Regions from separate parts of the Homo sapiens genome. Here regions 1 and 3 are each linked to region 2. The links come from fine-mapping of genetic effects on gene expression. A gene starts in region 2. Each other region holds a variant in brackets. All regions are shown on one strand. Distances are from middle to middle. Region 1 overlaps KCNH8 (potassium voltage-gated channel subfamily H member 8). Region 2 holds the start of KCNH8 (potassium voltage-gated channel subfamily H member 8). Region 3 overlaps KCNH8 (potassium voltage-gated channel subfamily H member 8).

The links.
Region 1: its variant is fine-mapped to the expression of KCNH8 in whole blood (TOPMed, PIP above 0.99).
Region 3: its variant is fine-mapped to the expression of KCNH8 in whole blood (TOPMed, PIP 0.93).

The regions. Positions count from the first base shown.
Region 1 is chr3:19,343,730-19,351,917 of GRCh38, forward strand. KCNH8 (potassium voltage-gated channel subfamily H member 8) reads left to right here. Exons shown (of 16, transcript NM_144633.3): 5 at 3,996-4,236. Among named protein-coding and RNA genes, the nearest start is that of MIR4791, 33 kb to the left of the region's middle. RefSeq lists a silencer at 5,281-5,330. The variant G/A (reference allele first, on the strand shown) is at 3,853.
Region 2 is chr3:19,143,458-19,151,645 of GRCh38, forward strand. It overlaps KCNH8 (potassium voltage-gated channel subfamily H member 8), which reads left to right and starts at 5,053. Exons shown (of 16, transcript NM_144633.3): 1 at 5,053-5,338. The coding sequence starts at 5,263. RefSeq lists enhancers at 3,308-3,901, 3,902-4,495 and a silencer at 3,443-3,614.
Region 3 is chr3:19,357,641-19,365,828 of GRCh38, forward strand. The region is part of intron 5 of KCNH8 (potassium voltage-gated channel subfamily H member 8); the gene reads left to right. Among named protein-coding and RNA genes, the nearest start is that of MIR4791, 47 kb to the left of the region's middle. The variant G/A (reference allele first, on the strand shown) is at 4,837.

The sequences.
Region 1 (8,188 bases), 200 kb after region 2:
CCAACATACACATGCTTTGATAAAACAGGACCATTCATCAGACATACGAAGTATTCATTTCTGATTGTAGTGAACAAAGAAAGATGTATGAGCCCAGGGTGAGGAACGAGATCTGACATGAAAGTGCTGCAAACCTGGCTGTACTTCAGTGCAACTTTCTGGAAGCCAAAACAAGATGTTTTGAATCATTTGTCCTCCAAGGACCATCAACCATGTCCGTGCTGGTGTGCCATGTACCACTGTGGTCACGCTTTGATTTTTTTTTTTTTTGGTCCTAATTCAATATAAAGTTTCTCTAGGGATACCTGTGCCTTAGTGTTATATTGATTTCCTGGGAGTCCAGGGAGAGGCTTGAAACAGTGCACACCACTTGATCTATGGATCCTTCCACTGGTGCCTATTTACATCCCCTTTCAGTTACCAAGTCAGCCTTAGTGACATAAGCAAGTTATAAGAAGAAACAAAGGTAACCGCATCTGGGCTTGATTCCATGCAAATCAACCAGCAAAGCACCTAAACAAATATTATCCACAGATTCTGTAAGGCTGAAAGCTGACACTGTCTAGCTTTTAGTGGAGAATTTAAACATAGCAAGTATTAGTGAGCTTTAAAATGCATTTGCTGGGCATGCTATTTTTCCCTTTAGATTCAACAAAGTACAAAGCAGTACTTAAAAATCTGATTTCAAAAAAACTATAACTCCCACTACTTAGCTAATTTGCTTAATTGCCATTCATTTAAGAAATACAAACATCAGAGTAGAGCATTAAAATAATACATAGTAATTTAAGATGCCTAACAGCCCAGTGACTCTAATACTACAGGTAATATCTTATTCCTGAAGCAAAGTATGGAATCAGGACTTGCCCTGTTCACGTGTTCACCATCTCCTTTCAAGGATAACATAGTAGAATGGCTAAATGGCAGATAGAAGGAAGGCAGAAGGGAGAAGAGGAAATGACTTGTATAGTTTATTGAATAAACAATAAATTTTCTGGAAATTCTGGCTGTAATAACATTTGCACACACAAAAAATAATTCTTAACATTTTATAGCCCTTTGCTATTTACAAATTCCTTTTACTTACATCATATTATTTGATTCTTATAGCAAGCCAGTACTAGGTCTGATTTTTATTAGTCCCATTTTAATGATGGAAAAAAACACAACTTATTAGAAGCAGCAGTTGTGGTACCCAACCTTTAATCTTCTAATTCAAAGCCACTGTGCTTCTGACTCTTACCTTGCTGCTTCTCGGATACAGTTCTGTGGAACAGGAATATATGCTTCAGCCATAGTCAAATGAACTCGTCAGGTCATTAGCAGGTTTGGGAATCAGGATGCAACATATTTTAGTCTGGCTCTAACTTTGCCTGGTATACCTTGAAAAAGGTGTTTTCAAATTCTGCCTTCCTTGATTGTTATTCTGTCAATCAAATGAGAATGATATGATGCAAATGTTTTCAACACAAAGAAATATTAAAGATCACACTAGAGCCTTGAAAACTTGAAAGGAGAGTGCTACAAATGCATTTTTCTGGCGGGGACAGTGGTGATCAGCAAAGGCATACACTGGGTTTAGATTACTCACTGAAGTGACTGTAGAAACATTTTCACATTCTCTTGCTCATTCAGATGATAGTTTCAAAGGAACTATTGCAAAAATAGTTTAGGAAACAATTACCTTAATTAGGCACTGGAGTTAACTAGTATGTTTCAATAACTCATAGGTGGAGGTTAAACATCTAAAACACCATTGGTACTAAAGAAATATGCTTGAAGATTAATAAATAAGATAAACTTAACGTCTAGACTAGGCAAACTCCATGTTTGACAGTTATAAATAACATGTCTTTCCCCCTACTTCCTGCTAAAAAGCATAATTTTACAATTGTGTACCATTTTTTTTTACAATTTTAAGAATTTTTTTCATTCAAAAGGATTTTGATAAAACATTACAAAAGCTGGTGGAAGAAGAGAAGCATCTATTTTTTTCACTCAGGTGATTATGTAAAGATGTTTGCAGGATTTGAGTTAACAACATTTCAAAATTTAAATCTAATCTCAAATGTATTGAATTCTCAGTATCTTTTTAAAATATTTTTAAAATATGTTCTAAGTAGCTTACAAAATGAAACCATGAGATTTATTTTCTGATTTGTACAGAAAACTAATATATTGCTGAACTTTTGTGACAGAATCACTAATGCTTCATATAATCAGCATAATCAAAGACAAAAACAAAAACTTCACTTTTGAGTTTTCCCAAATCATTACCCTAGATATGGATGTTCCCTCAAACAATGTAAAATTTTAATTTCTGTAATACGATAGAAAAAACTTATGTGGATAGAAAATGAGATATTTCCCATGGCTTCTGATAATTCTTTATTGTAGTAAATATTCAGGGAAAATTTGGATTAGAACCAATCATGTTATTACAACTTGAAGTGTTTATCAGTGGTGAGAAGATTAATGGTTATAGACCTTAATTCCCTCTTCCAATGTAACAGCCCGAATTTTTATGAGAAGCCCAACGGGGCTACTTCATCTCCCCTTCTCTGTTTTATGCCAAAGTCTACCTTTGGAACTGGTTTCTTGAAACCAGAGAATGAGACAAAGGAGACAGGACAAATATGAGGGAATTGTATGAAACATAGATGCAGTGGCAAATGGGCATTTAAGGACCATCTGGAAGTAGTTTAACAGTGACCCACCACGAAGTACTGACATTATGAGATGCCTGTGTGGGTTGAGTGAGAATATTAACAGGAAGTAGAAACATGGGTTGAAAATACCTACCAAAGAGAAATGCCAGACAGGGGTGCGTTAATATTAAGGTAGCAGAACTATTCAATCACTGACAGTCACCACTTAGAGCTAAATGTTCCTGATCTTTCTGAACCTTTCTTGAATCCTCAGGTACTTCAGGATCCCTGAACACATCACATTAATCTGCCCTTCCCTCAATGAGTGAGACAAGAACACAACATTGTGACCTACAAGTAATATGTATTCGGGAATTTATAACTGCTCTGTTAATTCAACTAAACTTTCAAATATAAGTTTCCATTACCTATCTTATATTTCCCATTAATTGAGGTCAAAGCCAGGTCTGCAAGTAGCTGGTCACAGGCTTGTCAAATTTCCACACATGCTATTGTTGGGCCTCCCTTTGTCTTCTAGCAACAAGGGAATTGTTCATCAATTTGAACTGCATTCAAAGTGAAGTGCTTTTGCAGTTATCAAAAACTCCAGCTATTCTGCATTTAATCAGCTGCACAGTGAACATTGGCTTTCTCCTCCCATGACTTGACTAATAACTCTTAAGCAACTGTTTCTTACTTTACCATCTGAATAATGTCTGGCCCATGTCAGAGTGCATCTGTGTCAGTCAAGGTAACGAGATTTGGGTTCCCAACTTCACCAACAGCCACAGTGCAAAAAATGAAAGTAGTTAGCACGACTTGGCTATATTTGGAAAGAAATGTAAACTGTTTACAATATAATATTGGTCATATATCTATTCTTTTTGGAAAGAAAAGCACCATTGCTGTCATCAGTAAAATATCAGGTCAAATATAGTCTTTAGATAATGACTGTCATCAGAAATCTACAAGTATACAGAATGTTCTCATGACAATAGGAATGTAAATATAGCTTTGTGTTTATAATGTGTGTAGAATTACATGTAACTGTGAATGTTTTTTGATGACATTTTAGGTAATGGTCTTTTTTATTTTTTAATGAACAAAATCTGGGTTACTCACTTAGCTTCATGACTAAACTCTGCATATTCCTGTTCCTTATAACAAAGATCTCTGCTCAGTTTTAGATGTTTAGATGCTTTGC[G/A]TCACCAACTTTTAAAAGTCACTTGTAAGATACTGCTTTGTGTAGTGAATGATCCTACTCACAAAAGTGTGTGTTTCAAGCTATGTAATCCTTGTTTCTAATGTTGTGTTTCTCCTTTCTCTCCTTTTTGTCTTCATCCACAGAATGTTTTTGTAGATAAACCAGCATTTCCGGAGTATAAAGTTTCTGATGCAAAAAAGTCCAAATTCATACTTCTGCATTTTAGCACTTTTAAAGCTGGCTGGGACTGGCTTATTTTGTTGGCAACGTTTTATGTTGCTGTGACTGTACCTTACAACGTTTGCTTTATTGGCAATGACGACCTGTCCACAACTCGGAGCACAACCGTCAGTGACATTGCAGTGGAGATTCTTTTTATTATAGGTAAGAACAAACAGCTGCTTTCCTACGATATTTGCATATGAGAAGTGAAGTGTGTTCCAGATTTTTCTGACATGAATTTGAACTAAGATCCATTTGCATGGGCTTGATTCAGCCTCTGTTGCAAATTTTGGAGAAGCACATACTGTATTTGGATTTCTGAAAATTGCCTCTTCCAACTTTTCCTGTCCCTTTATTCAAACAGATCTAAACTGATCTCCTGTGTTTCTATACTTATTTCATCCAGAATGGGCTAAAAAAGATTTAACAGCTGTTTTGTTTGTACTCTCACATCCTTCATGATCTTAAACTGGTAGGGTCAGAGATGGGTTTGACAAAAACCCACCAGTGGTGTTGTGACAGTGGTCCACTCCTTGACGTGTTCTTTCTCCATGCCCTTCCGTGCCCTTTCAGCATGTTGATGGTTTCAATAAATGACCTGGTTGCAGAAACAAAGGGTTACATAAGCCTTGCAGTAAATCTGGAGAAGCAGTGAGTATCTGATTTTAATTAAAGAAAAGGCCCCAAAGGATGTTTGTTAAGATAATTTATCACTAGAATATTGTGTACCTCAGTTGAAGCTGCGTCTGTGCCAATCTTGTAAGCCTTTTCCTATTTTCCTGTCCCTTAAATCTTCATCTTGTTTAGACCAAAGCCTAGCTCTGGCTTGCTCATTCTAGGACAGATTCCGGGTCTGTAAGTCACAGATTGACTCCCTGTTGAGTTATTGACTGTCATTAGCAGCTGATACCTGCTTCTTTCCTTGGTCATGGTGATAGAGGGCTATATTCTTACTGTAAAGATGAGAGGATGTTTGGAAACATTTTCAAGCAGGTAGGTGAACAAAGGAGTGAGAAATGGATCTTAAAATTTCAAAGAAAAATAAATAATTAAGTGAGGCACATCAAAACCTTGGTTCAATGGTGGTAGTAGTTGTTTTTTTGTGTGTTTTTTTGGTTTTTTCTCAGTGAAGCTGTTAAATCTTTGAGGCTAGAGTGCGTTTTCTGGTTGAATGTCAGCACGTTTGCTTTGGATGAGTTTGTGTGCTCTTGGTATGGCTTGGCATCGTTATTAACATTGTGTCTACTGGGCACACCCTTCAGAGCCTTGATAGGACCTCTGCTGTCACCCCAGAAGTGGTAGCTATAGTGTGTTTAGGCCACTAGATGGCAATGTTGTCTAGTTAGGCAGACGGCAATTTTATTTTTAATTTTTTTATTTTAAAATATAGCTATCCTTTATTAGAAAGATGTAACCATAAAGGGATCTATTAAATAATGGTTAAATGGAAAATAACATTCCAGTTTGAACAAGAATTTAAAATGAAAATGGTAGACAGATTGGGTGTGTCTGTGGTTTTGTATCCTTTTACTTTGCCAACATTTGAAGTCTCCTCCCACCCACCCATGATGCACACATAAATTAGCATCATAAAAACACTCCCCATGCCCTGGTCAAAGTTCTCAAGAACTTGGGCAGTCACTCAACATGGCTAAGCCTTCGTTTTTTGTAGTAGTGATTTCATAGGGTTTTGTGAAATAATAGATGTAAGTATCTGCTTAACAAATACTTCATCATCTTATTGTTATTTACAACTTTGTTATTAGGTCAAGTTATATCTTGAACTTTCCTTTCCATTCTTCCTGGTTCTTAGATATTTGACATTCTTTGGCCTTAGAAGCCACTTCTGTTACCACATGTTCATTAGCAGATGATGACTGACTTACTCCCATAAAAACTCATACCTTTGACGGAGATATTTTAAAAGTTTTTGTTTATTTGTTTTAAGGCTGCTTTTCTCTACTAAACCAATGGAGACTCATTTGCTCCCCTGATAGCAACCCCTAAATTCTTCTGTGTTTTTTATTACTGTCATTTCGACTGTGCTTCAGCAGCAAGATGGTTCTCCCAGTAGGCAATACCCATCCCTTACTAGCTACATGCAAAGGAATGAAAACCCATTCCAATTTTTTTGGTGTTTACTTTCTGCAAAGATTTAGGATTTGAAATTTTGGTCTGCAAGCAGTTCTAGTGTGACTCCTGCCTGAAATCTCTTGTTGACCAACTTATTTTTATAAGCAGTAAAAACTTTCCTATTCTTTCCTGCTGTTATCTGCCTGCTCTTTCTTTTAAATGAGTTTAAGCATATCTACAATTTATTATAGCATATTTAGAAAAATGGCTTAAATTAATATTTCTCTGTTTCCCTAAACCTTTATTCTATAAAATATTTCAAAAAGGTGGCCTAAAAGTGATCATTGAGAAATAAGTTAAAATACTGGGGACAAAATAGTTGCCTGTAATATTGCCTGTAATATTGTATCTTTACAATGTGAAGGTAGTGTTCATACCATTTAATATTTATTAAATTACTGCAGACTTAAACTTCCCTGTCTGACAGCTTTGAAGAGAGGAGCGGTTCTCCCAGCATGGAGTTTGAGATCTGAGAACGGAAAGACTGCCTCCTCAAGTGGGTCCCTGACCCCTGAGTAGCCTAACTGGGAGATACTTCCCAGTAGGGGCCAACTGACACCTCATGCAGCTGGGTGCCCCTCTGAGACGAAGCTTCCAGAGGAAGGATCAGGCAGCAACATTTGCTGTTCTGCAATATTTGCTGTTCTGCAGCCTCCGCTGGTGATACCTAGGCAAACAGGGTCTAGAGTGGACCTCCAGCAAACTCCAACAGACCTGCAGCTGAGGGTCCTGACTGTTAGAAGGAAAACTAACAAACAGAAAGGACATCCACACCAAAACCCCATCTGTACGTCACCATCATCAGAGACCAAAGGTAGATAAAAACACAAAGATGGGGAGAAACCAGAGCAGAAAAGCTGAAAATTCTAAAAATCAGAGCACCTCTTCTCCTCCAAAGGAACGCACCTCCTTGCCAGCAACGGAACAAAGCTGGATGGAGAATGACTTTGACGAGTTGAGAGAAGACGGCTTCAGACAATCGGTAATAACAAACATCTCCAAGCTAAAGGAGGATGTTTGAACCCATCACAAAGAAGCTAAAAACCTTGAAAAAAGATTAGATGAATGGCTAACTAGAATAAACAGCATAGAGAAGACCTTAAATGACCTGATGGAGCTGAAAACCATGGCATGAGAACTATATGACGCATGCACAAGCTTCAGTAGCCAATTCGATCAAGTGGAAGAAGGGGTATCAGTGACTGAAGATCAGATGAATGAAATGAAGCAAGAAGAGAAATTTAGAGAAAAAAGATTAAAAAGAAATGAACAAAGCCTCCAAGAAACATGGGACTATGTGAAAAGACCAAATCTACATCTGATTGGTGTACCTCAAAGTGACAGGGAGAATGCAACCAAGTTGTAAAATGCTCTTCAGGATATTATCCAGGAGAACTTTCCCAACCTAGCAAGGCAGGCCAACATTCAAATTCAGGAAATACAGAGAATGCCACAGACGTACACCTCAAGAAGAGCAACTCCAAGACACATAATTGTCAGATTCACCAAAGTTGAAATGAAGGAAAAAATGTTAAAGGCAACCAGAGAGAAAGGTCGGGTTACCCACAAAGGGAAGCCCATCAGACTAACAGCGGATCTCTTGGCAGAAACTCTACAAGCCAGAAGAGAGTGGGGACCAATATTCAACATTCTTAAGGAAAAGAATTTTCAACCCAGAATTTTATATCCGGCCAAACTAAGCTTCATAAGTGAAGGAGAAATAAAATCCTTTACAGACAAGCAAATGCTGAGAGATTTTTGTCACCACCAGGCCTGCCTTACAAGAGCTCCTGAAGAAAGCACTAAACATGGAAAGGAACAACCGGTACCAGCCACTGCAAAAATATGCCAGATTGTAAAGACCATCGAGGCTGGGAAGAAACTGCGTCAACTAACAAGCAAAATAACCAGCTGACATCATAATGACAGGATCAAATTCACACATAACAATATTAACCTTAAATGTAAATGGGCTAAATGC
Region 2 (8,188 bases):
ACAGTGCACCTCTATTGCTACTAAATGTCAGTTCTTGAATATTCCAGAGTTCCTTTTCTTTGAGGGCAAGGGTTGGATTGTATTTTACCACCTCTTTAAAATTAGGATGGCCATATGACTTATTTTGGTCATTAAGTTGTAAGTGGAAGTTTGAAAAAACAGTATATGCTTTGCCGGATTATCTTTTTCTCTTCAAAGAAAATACCTTTTGAGCAGAACTTCCATCAATCTGGGCCCCAATAATGAGCAGGCTCTTACCAACTCAGGTGGGACATGTAGACTGAGCAAGAAATAGCATTATTGTAATAAGCCATTGAGATATTATGTTTTTTATTGAGGCATAACCTAGATTACTCTGACTGAAACCATAGCTTTGGAGATTGTGCTGGAGTATTTTAGTTTCTACATACACTGAGAAATAGGCAGTGACCATTGGGGAACAGGAGGCAGTGAACACTGGGGAAGAGGAGGCAGTGAACATACCACTGGAATCCAGCTTGGTTGGATATAAGAGCACAACAATTTGAAAGCGTTAGTCAAAGAAATGAACTGCTTGATTTTCCTTCTGAGCTTCTAAAGTCATTTATATTTAGAAGGAAAAGCTCACCAGTCATAGGTTGTAACAAATTATTAATACATAAATGTGTTCTGAGCTAACAGGACCATAAACTGTCATAGTTGGTCAACAATATTTATTGTGGATAAACAACTTGTATTAGATATGTTAGAACATAAAAAAGAGAACAATGATTATTATCATCCCTTTTATTGTATGCCACATATTATGAGATTCAAAGGCTTTCATAAATATTTTCTTCTACTCAGTGGAGTAAGTAGGGAAAGTATTATTATCCCAGTTTTACAGTTAAGGAAATGGAAACCCACAAACTTTAAATGACAAAGGGGATAAGTGGTTGAAACAAAACTAGAACTCAATACATCTGAGTAGATGCCTGTAAATTAAAATATTGCCTTCTTGCGAAGGCTAAAATTCTTGTTGCCAGAAAAAGTTTAAGAATATTTTCAGTGCCTACAGTCAAATACATATGCATCAATAAGGCATTTGCAGCTATTTTGTGTCATGGTATTGGATGAATGCTATAATTAGAAAACAGACGTGAAGCCGACCTAAAACCATCAAACTAATATAGAGAGCCCTGAAGCTTTTTCCAGTTCCAGTCAGTCTGAAAAGACAACATCAAATGCTAATGAGAGTCAGTCTTAAATAAAATAAGAATAAAAATTGCTTTATCTGTGGCTTATAACTCTTAAGTGAATTTAATGTGTATTTTCTCTCTTGTGTGTTACATTTTCCCTATAAGGAATTATAGAGTTGAACCCAGATCTTGTACCCATAAATCTCAAATGCTTATGGAGACATAAAGAATAGGTAAAAATGGATTTTTAATCACATTAAGGAATGCTGTTATGAGGCAACTTCCTTTGAAACTCAAAATACTAACAAATTGATAGGAAGATTTTAAAACATGGCTCCATTTTATTTGATACTTGTTCCATCTAAAGGTTGGACTTTTCCCCCTTTCTGATTAACCTGGATTCTGTGCTTGCTTTCAATCTGGCCGTTTCTAGATCAGGCCTTAAGAAACTGGCAGTTCCTACTTCCTGTCTCTTCAGACACTCTGGAAACCACCATGCTGTGAGGAAGCCCAAGTAGTTCCTGGAGAGATCTACACCAATAACTGAAGCCCCAAGGCCCTAGCACTGGCTGAGCTCCCAGCTGAAAGCCAGCACCAAATTTCCATAACTTTGAGTGAACCATCTTGGAAGTGTATATTCCAGTTCCAGGTTAAGTGTACTCAGAAATAACCTGCCCCATTGATCCCTGTAAAAATTGGAGATCTGAAAGCAAAATACAATATTGTTGACATTTTAAGTCAGTAGGGTTTGGGGCAGTTTATTGTATCAGTGAACTTTGCCTAGGTTGGTTTTACCTAGAGGCCTTCTATAGTACATAATAGAGTACCTTGGTCTGGTTATAGGGATTTTGTGCCTTCCTTTACATTTTAAAGTGAAAGAAAAATATCTTTTCTGTGAACATGAATTTTTTATTATTATTGTTATACTTTTAAGTTCTAGGGTACATGTGCACAATGTGCAGGTTTGTTACATTGGTATACATGTGCCATGTTTGTTTGCTGCATCCATCAACTCGTCATTTACATTAGGTATTTCTCCTAATGCTATCCCTCCCCCAGCTCCCCAGCCCCCAACAGGCCCGGGTGTGTGATGTTCCCCTCCCTGTGTCCATGTGTTGTCATGAACATCAATATTTTTAATGAGGGCATTAAGTTTACTCTATTGTGTGGTTATCCTGTATTCTTGTAGCATTGTCTCGTTTAGTCCGTAGAGAAAGATCACATCCCTGTAGTGTGTGATCTACTATAAAATGAGTTGGGGTTTTTTGTGTCAATAAAATGAGTTGCAACAAAATGAGTTGGGTTTTTTTGTGTCAATAAGTGGGGACAGTGGGAAAATTTCCTTAAGGAAAGCACATGAGATTTGGTGATTTGGGGCAGATGATAGTGAAAACTCCAGACTCCCATGGTGCTTCTTTCACGGTCTTTGCTTTCCAGGTGGCAAAACATGTTTAAAGGGATTTAATATACTTAAACTTGGATGGAGGTCATGTTCTAATGGCACAATTTGGCCTCACTGATGCCACAAACCCTTAGGATGAACATTAGGTTTCGGGCTAGAACTTAAAAAGGGCCTGGAACTCAAGACCAGAGTGGTGATGGCTGTCTTCATTAAGAAACACTTCTTGGTGGGCAAAGGATATAAGAGATAGTTAGGTCCATCTACTGCAGTTCAGTAGAATACAGGGCTTGAATTTGAATTTAGGGCAGGGATCTTGCCATGCCTAGCACAGTTCCTGACACATAATAGGTGTTGGAGGGGAGACAGTGAATGATAAATGCCAGGCTCCTTTTGCCATGAAACTGGGGCTTTCTTTTGGGTTGTCATTTTTAAGCCACTATGTGGCTTGCTTCTTGCAGTGATTTCATATATTAGGTAACAGATCAGGACCACGAGGAAACAATTTTTACACACACGGCCCTACAGTGCAAATTGTTATGAACCACAGTCATAGCTTACAACTAATACATTTCATCCTGAACTTCGAGCCAATTCACGGGTGGCGTTTATCTCCGTTTTACATCGGCAGCAACAGCCTGAATTTTCTGGGACACGATGCGCCACCCAAACAACAGGGACTCCCTCATCTTTTTCTCCCCAGCTCCGCCCAAGACTGAGCCACATAGCCACCTGCAGTTGCGATCGGCTCGCCGCGTGGGGGACTCCACCCGCGTGAGCTCGGTTTCCGAAAAGCGAAGCTGGGGTGGGACACAAGGATTGAGGGGAGGACAGGGACGGACCTGCGGCAGAAGCAGGGTGCAGCTGGGCGAGGAACCCCACGTTGGTAGCTTCTCTTCTGGGATGGCCGCCCCGCGCCGCCCACTCCGGAATCCTGTCCCCTCCCCGGCGCGCCCCCGCCCAGCTAGCCTAGAGCCTCTGCCGGATCTTCTCGAATTTCAACACAAAGGGAATCCTCGGCCGCAGGAAGTGCATCACGAGAAAGGGGGCCTGGGGGCGGGGAGAGGGGGATGCCGCTTCTCTCTCTTCTCCCCCTCCCTCCCGGAGCCCAAGGCAGACGTGACGAAACCCGCGGGGTCCCCCCCGAAGCCCCAACAGCCGAGATAATTGAAACAAGAAACCCCCTTAGTAAGGGGGCGGGGGGTGGGCCCTCCCTCCCTCCTCCCGCCACGCCCGAGTTCCTGGAGATCAGAGCTGCCTCGCCGCGGCTCTGACACCTGTTTGCTTTTTCCCTCCTTTCCTTCCGGGTGCACTAGCACCTGGGCTTACGTTTGTTTTTCTACCCTGGGGCTCTCAACTTCCCTTCCACACTCCACCTCCCTTGCAGAGTTTTCTATAAAGTTCGGGCTCTGGGTGTCCCCTTGCACTCCCCACAGGGCTGTGCCGCAGGCTTGGGCGACTTTCCCCGCAGAACGTTGGCCGAGAGGGAGTCCCCGCGGGGGGGGCCAGGGGGGAGGACTGGGAGAGACCACTTTCGTTTTCTGAGACGCCTTCAGTTCCTGGCCGTCCGCCAGGCTTTCTTCTTGGAGGTGTCAGTCTTCGGGAGTGGGGGCTGGGGAAAGGGGGGCAGGCTAGGGGATTTGTGTTTGAAGCTATTTTTGGAAGGCAGCCTTACTGTTTTTACTTACGTGGTATTTTGCAAATTAATAAAAATAGCAAACTTTTCTAGAAATGCTTTATTCACATTTTACCGGAGAATGGGAAACCATCCATTGTCCGTTCAAAAGGCTATTTTTTTAAAGTTTGGGATGGCTTGGGGAGGCCAATGGCAATTTGGGGAGAAGGGCTGAAGCACCCCTTTTTGGAGCTCGGGGCCAGTTTCCCGGACTAAAAGACCCTGGTGACTGGGGATGGGCCTCACAACTAACTCGGGCTGCCCTGCCCCTGTCGCGTGGGCTCGCAATGGCAAGTGCTCCGGAAGGGGGCCGCCTCCCCGTGGGGCTCCTGGCTGCCTCTGCTCCCTTGGACACCACTGGGGGGCCTCCCCCTCCTAAGTTCTAGGTTGAGGCCGGATACCTGCCCCGACCTGTCTCCTCCCTTTCTCCAATACCACACCCACGGGACTCCAGTCTCCCCGGGAGTGGGACGGAGAGGGAACAAAGGGGTCTTTGTTCACTGGCTCCCGGGGCGTGGGAGTTGCGCTCGCTCTCCTTTCCCGGCGTCCCGTGGAGACCGGGAGGCTCAGCGCCTCTCCCAGCTCTCAGCGCCGCCCTCCCAGACCCCAGAGACGTCGGTCAGGGCGCGGCGCCCCGGGCCACTGCGGGCTCTTTCCGGGCGGGCGACGTGGGGGGCGAGGCACCGCGCGGCGGCGCCTGGCGGGCACTGTTGCCCGCGGAGGGACGGTGGGGGGGTTTCAGCAGCTGGCGGGGGTGGAGGGGGCGGGAGAGGGAGCCTGCGCCGGGCTGAGCCTGGAGGTGCGGGGCGGGCTCGGGGAGCGCTCTTGGGGCTCCTCCTGCCACAGCCGGGGCGGCTGGAACTCTCTCCCTTTCTCCCTCCATCCTTCCACTTCCCCTGCTCGGCCCCGCCGTCAGGCCGGGTCCCCCTTCCCTGCCGTCATCAGGTTCCCCTTCTCCCTTCTTGGCACTTTCCTTTCGAACCATCCTTCTGGACAAACTTTGATGGAGAATTTCACACCACGCTGGAAAAATGCCGGTTATGAAAGGATTACTGGCGCCGCAAAACACCTTCCTGGACACCATCGCCACCCGTTTTGACGGAACACGTAAGTCTTACACTTGAACGAGTGGTATGGCATTTTCTGAGACTGATTTTTCTCGTACACATTACTTTTGCTCCCACCTTCCCTTTTGCACCAGCGGAGTGAATTTTCTTCTGTTCTTGCCAAGGTATCTTTTGTGCGGAGAAATTTGTTCCCTCATGGTTTGGTGTAGTATTAACACTTTGTATTGGTGTAATAGTTGGCTCTCTTGAGTTCTTGGGTTTGTTAAGGACTGAAACGCAGCCTGAGGAAAGACCGACGCCCGTATTCACTGTGGGACCTGCATTTTGGTGTATCTTTAGGGAATTGGTTGTAATTTTCTGAGGTGAAAAGGGGAATATCGGTGTACCTAATCTTTCTAGAGTTTCAAGGCTCCCTAGATCAAAAGGAGAGCTTGGAGTGTTCTTTCTTGGAGCTTCATTCCGTGATATATTTCGGATAGGTATGATTTTCTATCTGAGTTTAAGAAATGCAGGATTGCCAAGTGTAAGCTTTCTGTAGAATTTTAAGTGTTGTGAGTTTGTCAGAACCTTGATTCCTGCTTTTGAGCTAGAATAGCGTATCTTTTAATCCTTAAATGAGCCTAACACTCAAGCAGAGGCTGTTCAGGAAGAAGGACATGAATAAAGACGATTTGATGATAAGAGAAAGTTTTTAGTTTTTTTTTTTTGAGTACGAATATTATTGGACATTTAGCTCATTTAAGCTACAGTAGGAAAAAAAATAGATAGGATGTTGTGTGGTTGCTAGCAGACGGTTCGTTATCATCTGCAAGTTGTTCTCTTTCAGGACCACGGTCAGGTCCCCACTCCTTCTCAGGCTTTTCAAGCTCTCTACTTGACCCTGTGGATCTTCCTAGCTGGCTTTAACCCTGTAATTAGGAGTCTGTACTACCACCCCTAACAAATGCTCTCAGTTGGTTTCACTACGAATATCCTCATCTTCTTTCTAGCTTATCTTGCTTCTGTGCACTGTCTTCCATTTTTCTGTTGAGACTCAGAGAAACTCATTTATCCTAAAGTCCTTCTTAGTGGTTCAAGTGTCATTGCTTTTACTCTGTATATTTCTTGGAGCTGATATGGGAGAGCAATACTAATTTCATTTCCACTCCAGTAGTCTAAATACACAGTCTTATCTTTGGGTGGGAAGCAAGTCTTGGACTTATGCTTCAGGGATAGTTGGAAAAGTTTACATGAGAAAGAAATGAATCACTTTAATTTTGTTCAGTTTTTATTTTTGACATCTAGTCTAATCATGGTAGTTGGTGTGGATATTTGGTCACTTCATAAGTGTTTTTATCTTTACATCTAGCCATTCTTTTCCCTTTTATATTCTAAATGTGTTAGATGTTATGTATGAGGTGTAATGTTATTACGTATGTCTTTTTTAGATAATAATGATAAATATTATAGGAAAACTTCAAGTCCCTGCCATTGCCACTACCACACCACTGAAGCGCCACACAAAATCACCACTGCTGTGTTTTACCATGCATGATGGCGGATACTACTATTTTACTATTCATTACCTGAGGTACTGATCAGTTTAATGTGGATGTTTTTTTTTTTGAAGTTGAACATCCAAAACTAAAAGGCTGTAAACATTGATCCTGAATTTGTCTATTGAAAATGAGGTAATTGGCAAATGGTAATTGTTTATCTCATTGCCATTTAAAGTTGAATGAAGTGTAATGTGTAGTGAATCATCCCAGCACAGCCTTGGGAATTACTGCAGTGATACATTCAGATATCAATTGCTAATGAGAGGGGCTTTAAATCATCAGCGTGGAAATATCTTGGCCTCTGACTCTGACTATAGTGATATGCATGATAAGCAGGAGGGCATGTAGGGAGAGATGGATGTACTTGTGAATAGTTCTTTTTCTATGTTGGCTACACATTAATGTTAATAAGATAGGTTAGATACTTTAAATCCTTATTTTTAAAGAAGACCATCCTGACATACCTGTATTTAGTATAGTAAGAAATCAAAAAGTCTTTTGGAGACCATGCTTGGTCTGTGCTCCACAGCATCTGGGGGATTCCTGGAGGGAACCAGTTTGCATGAAATCTGACAATCAGAGAAGCAAATTTGAAGGTGATAAGTAACATAAGGGTTGACTTTGGCAAGGTTTTGTTTACAACATTTAGTGAACACCTCTCCTCCCAAGAAACCCCCACTCAATGAAAGAGGGTTTTCTTTTCTCATTTTCTTTTCCTTTCTTTTTTTTTTCTTTTTGAATAGCAGGATGACTTGAATAATCTGAAACTTAAAATACCTTAAACAAAATTTTAGCCACAAATTTTGGTATATCTAGAATAATGGGTATACCATTTTTCCAGCTAGCTATTTACTTTATCTTCTTATGCCATTGTTTCTTGTTGATACAGTTTTGTAATTACTATCTCTGAAACTATTTTCCTATGATAATCCTTACTTCTATTGATTTTTATAGCTGTCATTTATTTTCTTTTGCAAGAGAAAACTATTTACAAATTTTAAATTTACAAAATTGCCACCTACTCAAAAACTTTGCTGGAAAGTGAATAATGTTAATTATACTGAATATGTAATATGCTGAGTTGGTATAATTTTTACCTTATTTGTGAAGTATATTTTACGGTCATGCTAGTTTCTTATTTTATTTTGGACAATTTTTATGAAAAAAAAATTAGAGAGCAAACAACAACCCTGGCAAACTGCCTTGCTAATGTACCCAACATGCAGTATTATTATTAGCCTTATTAATTTATTTTATTGGAGAATAATAAAACAATGTAAGACATCATCTGAAAATCCTCCCAGGAAAAATAAATATATGACAACATAAAACTCTATAACATAATCCTACTA
Region 3 (8,188 bases), 210 kb after region 2:
TTATAACCACAAAGACTGAGAGTCATAGATTATGCCATAAAGTTGTATCTCTGATTGCTTTGGTCTCTCTAAGAACTCTTCAGAAAGCTAAGTGTCAAAAGTAACATGATATGCAAGTATGCTTTGTTTATATTTACCTTAGTCAAAAAATCACTGAGTTATTTAACAGGACATCTGAAAAAACAGGATAGCGTAATGGGGAATATATAAATAAAGGGATAAAGCTGAGAAGCTTTCATAATAGAAGGAATATATATATATAAATCCTGAGTCCAAAAGGGCACTTTAGGAACTGAATGGGATAAAAAATACATATACTCCATACCTAAACATGTTACTGTGCAGATTATAAAGGATTAAAAAGAAAATCTTCAAAGCCTTCTGAAAGAGAAAATTTACTTACCAAGGTATAATAATTAGACTGAAGTCAGATTTCTCAGCAACAGTAGAGGCCAAAAGGCAATGAACAATATCTGGCTTACTAGAAAAAAATACTGGCCGGCCTTCCTTCCTTCCTTTCTTCCTTCCTTTTCTTCCTTCCTTCCTTCCTTCCTTCTTTTTTCTTTCTCTTTCTCTTTCCTTCTCTTTCTTTCTTTCATTCTTTCTTTCTTTCTCTCTCTCTTTTTTTCCTTCTTCTCTCTTTCTCCTCCCTTCCTTCCTCTCCCTTCCTTTCTTTTCTTTCTCTTTTTTCTTTCATTTCTTTCTCTTGGTTCATTCTTCTTGAGGAAAGGGTACACAATGAAGATATTTTCACAAAAAATAAAACTATTGTACCACCCACAGATTCTCACTGAAAGAACTACTAAAATATGTTCTTTAGCAGGAAGAAAAGTGAAGCCAGAAGGAAGGAGTGGATCCAAGATAAAACAAAATTTGAAATGAAAATTGATAAAATATGTTGACAAATTAGATTAACCATTGGGTGAAAATAAACAATATTGTTTCAATGGACTAAATAAAAACAAGTTATAACAGATACTGCTAAAACATGTTGATAAATTTAATTAACTATTGACTGAAAATATATTAAGGTGTTTTATGTTTTTTAAATACATAGAAACCAAAATTCTAAACAGTGATGACCATATGGAGGTGATGGTAGGTGGCTAAAAAGCAGTGTGTCACCTTTTAACATGTCCAGAGTAAATACATTAGAACCCAGGAAATATTGTTAGAAAACTTTGTAATTAGTTGTGTGTATTAAAATTTTTAAAGGAACTGTGCAAAAATAAAACAAAAATATTAATGGACCCAGTGATTTCAAAACAACCAGAAAAAAAAACCTAAGGAAATATGAAATATTACTAATCCACAAGGAAAAGGAAAGGAGAAAAACAAATGAGGAAGACAAATATGGGGATTAGAAGATGAAAAATAACAGCAGTAAATCAAGATATATGACAAATATTCAAATGTAAACACTTAATGGGTAGTAACTCACATGCTAAAATAAGTGATAGTCAATGGATTTTTTAAATTCAAAAATATGCCAGTTATAGAATTAAATCTAATACAAAATTACTAGAGGAATTGGAAAAAAGATCTGTTATGTAAATACTAACCAAAAGAAAAGAGGTGCAAGAATATAAATAGCTGAGATATAAAATTTAAGACGAAGATACTAATAGGGCTAGTAAGTAATATTATATGTTAATAAAAGAAACTATTAAGAAGATATAACCATAATAAATATATGTACTTATATATATATGTGTGTTGTGTGTGCATGTGTATATACATAGAGAAAGAGAAACTTATTTTAGAAAATAAAAATAGCTATAATAACACGCAGTATCAGAAACTGATAAACTAGCACATCAATATTTTTAGACTATAGGAGATTTGAAAAACGTGATCGACACCTGATACAATATCGTTTAAGTAGAATTCCTCAACCGTGGGACGACTGAAGTTTGGGGCTGGATAATCGTTAGTTATGGAGGCTGCCCTGTATATTGCAAGATGTTTAGCAACATCTCTGATCTCTACCCACTAAATGCCAGTAGCACCCACTGCCCAGTTGTGACAATCAAAATTGCCTCTAGATGTTGCCAATTTATGCATTTATTATAATTTCCAAGACATATTGTGAAATGAAATAAGCAAGATTAGTTGTGTATATATAGTATGCTAACGTTTATATACAAAAGGGGTGGGGAAAGAGTATGTGTGTGTATATTTACTTGACAATGCTTAGGTTGTCTTTGGAGATTTAAATAAGATATTGCTGAGCTTCTTTGCTTCCAGAGAGAACCACAAGGTACTGAGCACAGAAAAGGGAAGATTTTACTGGATACCTTCTGTGAACTTTTGAGTTTTGAGCAGTATAACTGTAATGCCAAATAGAGAATAAACAAAATTAGAGTAAAAAACATACATATAAGAGTTAAGTGATTACTCCAGAATTTTTAAAAAGCATGAGCAAAAGCCTAAAGGAGGTCATAAAGATAAGGACAGAAATTATACCCTAGATAGCAAATGAAAATAAGAACAATGTGGCAAGACTCAATCAAATTTGAAATGCACATACCCTAGGATTCAGCATTTATTCTTTTTTAGGTGGAGAATCACTTGCAGACATGTGCAAAAGGTTTGCTGGGTTATTGTTTGCAGGAGCAAAATAATGGAAACAAAGTCTATATTCACCGAATAGTAGAGTATAAATCAAGTGTGGTGGATGGGTGGATGTATATAATGAAAAACTACACAGTAGAGAAAAAAGAATATAGAGCAGGGATTGGCAAACCAAGTGTCAGAGGCCAAATCTTTCTCCCTGTTTTTATAGATAAAAGTTATCGTTAACACAATTACTCATATTCTTTTGTATATGTTTTATTGTTGCATTCCCACTATATCAGCAGAGTTGAGTGGTTGCAACAGAGACTGTGGCCAACAGAGCCTAAAATCTTCACAATCAGTCCTTTAAACAAAAAGTTTGCCAACCCCTGGTCTAGGACAATGTTTTCTAACCCAACATTGCCTTTTCCATAACAAATATTTTATAATGCCTTCTTATTCTCTACCTAGTCATCTTAAAAATAAAATTGATACAATTTTATATATCTCTGATACTGTAATATCAGAGACAACATAAAAGAAATCATTTATAATAATTTCTTGTGTATTTCAATTCATAAGGGCTGTAGCGTTAGGATACTAAAATGCATAATGAGATAAATACTTGCAGTTAGTTATAATGAACAAACTTGGATTTACAATAATTCCATTGAGGAAGTACAGGCAAATTAAAAGAGTAGAGGTACAAGTGGACATAGAATAAGAACTAGTATTATGATGAGTATTCATTTAAGCAGACATTAATATATGACAACAGAAATTGGGAAATAGCTAACTCAGGTAAGGATAGCATGCTAAGACAAATTTCAGTCTATGAAAATAGAAAAAATGAGGAAACTGAGTCTTCTGGCAAATTTGTTGGCCCTTATCCCTATATGTAGTATTCTAACAATTCCTGTGCTCAGACCTGGAGTGAGATAGTGATGAAATCAAAATAAATAAATAATAACAGGAGAAACATTTGAGTGGGGAAAAACAACAAGAAAAAGAAGTCATGAAATTAAGTTTTCCTAATGGTTTTTCAATAGAATCATGGATTTTTTTCTCTCATGTATTTCTTCATTATTTAAAATAAAGGAGATCCCACATTTTTCTGCCCAAACAGTTGAAAGTCTTGTGGAGTAAAGGGCTATCACATTGGGTAGATTATCCTGTCCAGGCCAGAACATCTCACGTCCTTGCCCACTACACACCAGTAATGTTCCCAATCATTATAACTCAAAATACTCCATACATATTTGGCATTTATATTCAATGCTGTATTTTGAGGTTATTTCCTACATCCACTTGAGTAGTTCTAGTTTGCCGATTCTCAGAGGAGCAATACCAACCATGGGAGATACTTTAGAAACACATGGGTTTGACTTTAACTCACCAATCGGCATTACTATTATTTGGTATAGCATTTGTGCTTGTAATACCAATTTACATATTTGCAAATGGAGTAAAAATTAAACAAATGAGCAGAATTCCCATTGGTGCAGCATTTCTTATAAGCATATATACACATTTTCATTGTTTGTAATTATTTTTTCTCCTTTTGCTTAAAATGCTTTATTAACCAATACTTCTATTAACTTACAAATACCCAAATTTTTCTATCTCAGAATCTTTATTTCTGAACATCATTTAATTTTTAGTATTAACTTTAGTGACATAATTAGGGCAGGTATATATTTGTATACATAAGGAGAAAGGGAGGGAAAGTAAGAAGTTGATACAAGATCTGGTTAATTACTGACGAAGCTAGAGCTAAAACCCTGAATGTTTCATTTGTAAATGGGCAAAGAAGTAGCATTATTGTGAGAATTTGGTGAGGTAATTATATCAAGAAATCAGCTCACTCACTGTTCAATCAATAATGATGATTATTGTCGATAATGTAGGGGAGGAAAATCTTCCTTCTATCTTCTTAGATTCTGTGGCTGAGAATTAAACTAATGTAAGACAGACTAACAGGGCAAAAAAGCATACAAATTTTATTAAATATTTTTCCATACACACAGGAGTCTTCATAAAGAAAATAAAAATCCAAATAAGCTGTTAGGCCCCAAAGCTTAAATAGCTTTTTTAAAAATGTGTTAAACATTGTGAGGATGTGACAAGACAGGGGAAGTAAATTGTGGGGCAGTGACTAGGAAATATATGGGGGAAATTAATGGAGGATGAGTTGTTTTAGTAGATTGGTTTGTCCAGATTCATCTCAGCTTCAACTCCCAGTCTTCAGTGATAAGAATGTTCTTTTCTTTCTGATATGGG[G/A]AAAGCACCTGTCTCATGGGAAATTTTATGATTTGCATTTAGAAGAGGGTCAGGGAAACTTTCCTGCACCTGCTGTTTCTCAAATACCTTCAGCTATAAATAATCAATATAACAAAGCAGCGTATCTTGAGGTGGCATGTTCAAGGTCATCAAGCCTGTATTTCCTCAGTATTTGTTTTTGTTTTTGTTTGTTGTTTGTTTGTTTGAGACAAGGTCTCACTCTGTCATGCAGGCTGGAGTGCAGTGGCACAATCACAGCTCACTGCAGCCTCAATCTCCCAGGGTGATGCTCCTACCTCAGCCTCCCAAGTAGCTGGGATTACAGGCATGTGCCATCACGCCTGGCTAATTTTGTTGTTTTTTTGTAGATGGGGTTTCCCCATTTTGCCTAGGCTAGTTTCCTGAGCTCAAGTGATCCTCCCCCCTTAGCCTCCCAAAGTGCCAGGATTACAGGCATGAGCCACTGTGCCCAGCCTCCTTGGTTTGTTTTAATATCTACTGTTTTTAGAAAATTAGCATCCTTTGAAACATACTTAATAATCCAGCTAATCTTGGGACTAAGATACACCAGAACATTGCACAACTCAAAGCTTTCAGGAACACAAGTGTCTGAGGATTCATTTACTACTTAAAGGAGCGGAGGCTTTTTCAGGTACTTATGCAGACTTGGCTCAGCATCTTTCTGAAAAGCCAAGAGAAGGTCTCTTAAAGACCATCATCTTGTATCTACCTGTCAGGCATCCTTTATCTGCAGTACTCTAGGGACTGACATGCATTGAATGATGTCAAACAACATTAGAAGTAATCATTCCAGTTATCTTCTCTCTTCCAATCTTCCATCAGCACTTCTAAGAACAAGGAAAAGAGCTGATCAGCATTTCAGCTCCCCCTCCTTTTTTCCTGAACAGCTCTGAAGAGGCCTGAAAGGCACAACTGGGACTTCCAGTAACACAGTCTAGAAGCAAGTCATTAGCTAAAGGCTTAATCACCAGCTTGAGTATTCAAGAGGTCTCTTAACAACAGCTTCATAATTTTGCTGGATCTGAGTTCAATATTTAGTATCATTTACAAATACATACTTGCTTCAAAAAACTTTTCTCCAAATCTCCTCTTTATTGTGCATAACCTATATAATCTCCGTTTCGTGTTAAATGGAACTAAGGGGTAGTGCTCTTGTACCATTGAACTCTACTCATATCAATGCTTGTTACACTAGTAGCCCCCAAAAAGGTACTTTAATTCTAGGATTCTTGGATGTCTTTTTCTATCAGGGTAAATACACAAACATCAGTGGGCCCTGAAAGGGTATGGACTTTTTAATGTTATTTCATTGTATAAGCAAATCCCAATTTATAGTATAGTCATTTTCCTGAAAACTGCAAAGATGTCATTTCCTCCTTAGGTAAAATGGCTAAAATTAAAGATACTGACTTGGATACTGAAGGCAAAGACATCTAATAATAAATAAAGTTGAAGTTTTATGATGAGGAGAAAATTAAATTAAATTTTACCCCTGAATTGCTTGGACATTCTGGTATACCCTGACTACATAGTTAAGCTTTGATTAGTTAACATCCATTCGTCTCTTAGTGTTTGGCTCCCTCTCTCCCTTCCTCTCTTCCTCTTTAAATCTCATTTTTCCTCCTCCCCTACTACTAACATAGTCAGATTCTCCCACCTATTCCTAGTACACCTTTTAGATATAAGGTGGCAATGGAGGTCCGTATACCCATATACCCCCACGTCTTCATGCCCACGCCTCCACAACACAAAGCCTTAAGCGTGTTGAGGAGACTCCTTCCAGTTATTCTGTTTAGCCATTCACGCTAATCTAGGATTGAGTAATAGGGTCTCTCACTAACAATGACTCAATACGGCATTCATGGCTCGGATTTGACCTTTGTCCCACAAAGCTATTTATAATGCAGCTATGAGAATATTTACAGTGTCTGTATGCCAAGATAATATATTTGGAACATTTATTAAATGGAATGTATTATATTGAGCATTGATCTTTGACTAGAAATGAATCACTGCCGACTTGGTTACTGGCCAGCTATTTTTTGGTGAATAAATCTAAGCCTGCGTATATAGCAATAATTATACAAAAAACAGAAAACTACACTACCACTTCAGATTCCCAGTGAGGTGTAAGGTAGTAAGTGTCTTATCTCAAAAATGTAGGGATTTTACATGTCAGAATATCTTGGTGGGAAAAGACCGTGCATTGAAAAGTAAGGTACTGTTTTCATCATTCTTATTAAGAGCTCTCAAATTAGGTGACTTTAAAGTACCTACTTAAGCACTTAAGCAAAGATTAAAATTGCATTTGTTTTACAAATCAACTGTCAGTTCACGTATTGCTTCATTAGGCTTTTCAGAATTCACTATGGGAAGATGAAACGCTATCATAAATTAACTATTGAACGGATACCCAGGATGTGTAACCACTACATTTTCCTTAACCATATGAAACTGCAGAGCAGACTATTTTTCATTTGATTGTTTCAAACATAGCAATGGATGTTTCCTTAGGCAAGATGTAATAGGCTTATGTTTAATTATAAGAATTACTTTATTCACCATCACTTTCTATTAGACAGACTTACAGATTTTTGGAAATAATTCCACCATTCTTTACTGTAAGCAAAATCATACTCAAGGACAATGTTCTCGATAAACCTACAAATTACATTTTAAGGTATTTTCTTGTGATTTAATGTTCCTCTGTGCATATACTGTGCTAATTATCTAAACTTTAAAATAGAAGCAGTGGAGAAAAACAAATGTCTGTCAATTACAGCCATTCCAAAACAATGTCTGCTTCCATTTTAAATCTTTCTGTGTGTTGTTTTCTCTACTTGTTTTAATGTAGTTGTGCTGGTATTCTATGCAAACTTGGGGAATATTTTTTCTCATAACATTTTAATATAATTATTTCTCTGTGTTTTATAAATATTTATAAACATATTTAATATCTGCATAATATTCCATCATATAATGATTATTTAGTTTATATAACCGCATCTTAATTGTTACGCATTTAAGATGATTTTGATTTTTTGCCACTTAAATATAAAAATCGTAATGAACATCTCTATGAAAAATATATTTATTTACTAACTAAGCAAATACGTACTGAGTGCCTATCATTTGCCATGTACTGTTCTAGATGCTGGAGATAGGCCAGTGAAGCAAATAGACACAGGTTCTTGCCTTCATATGATTTACATCCTGATAGGAGACAAACAGTAAACAAAACAATTAATTTAAATGGCATGCTTGATAGTGACAGGTTGCACGTAGAAAAATAAAGCAAAGAAGGGGGAAGGAATGGGCTGCAATTTTAAAT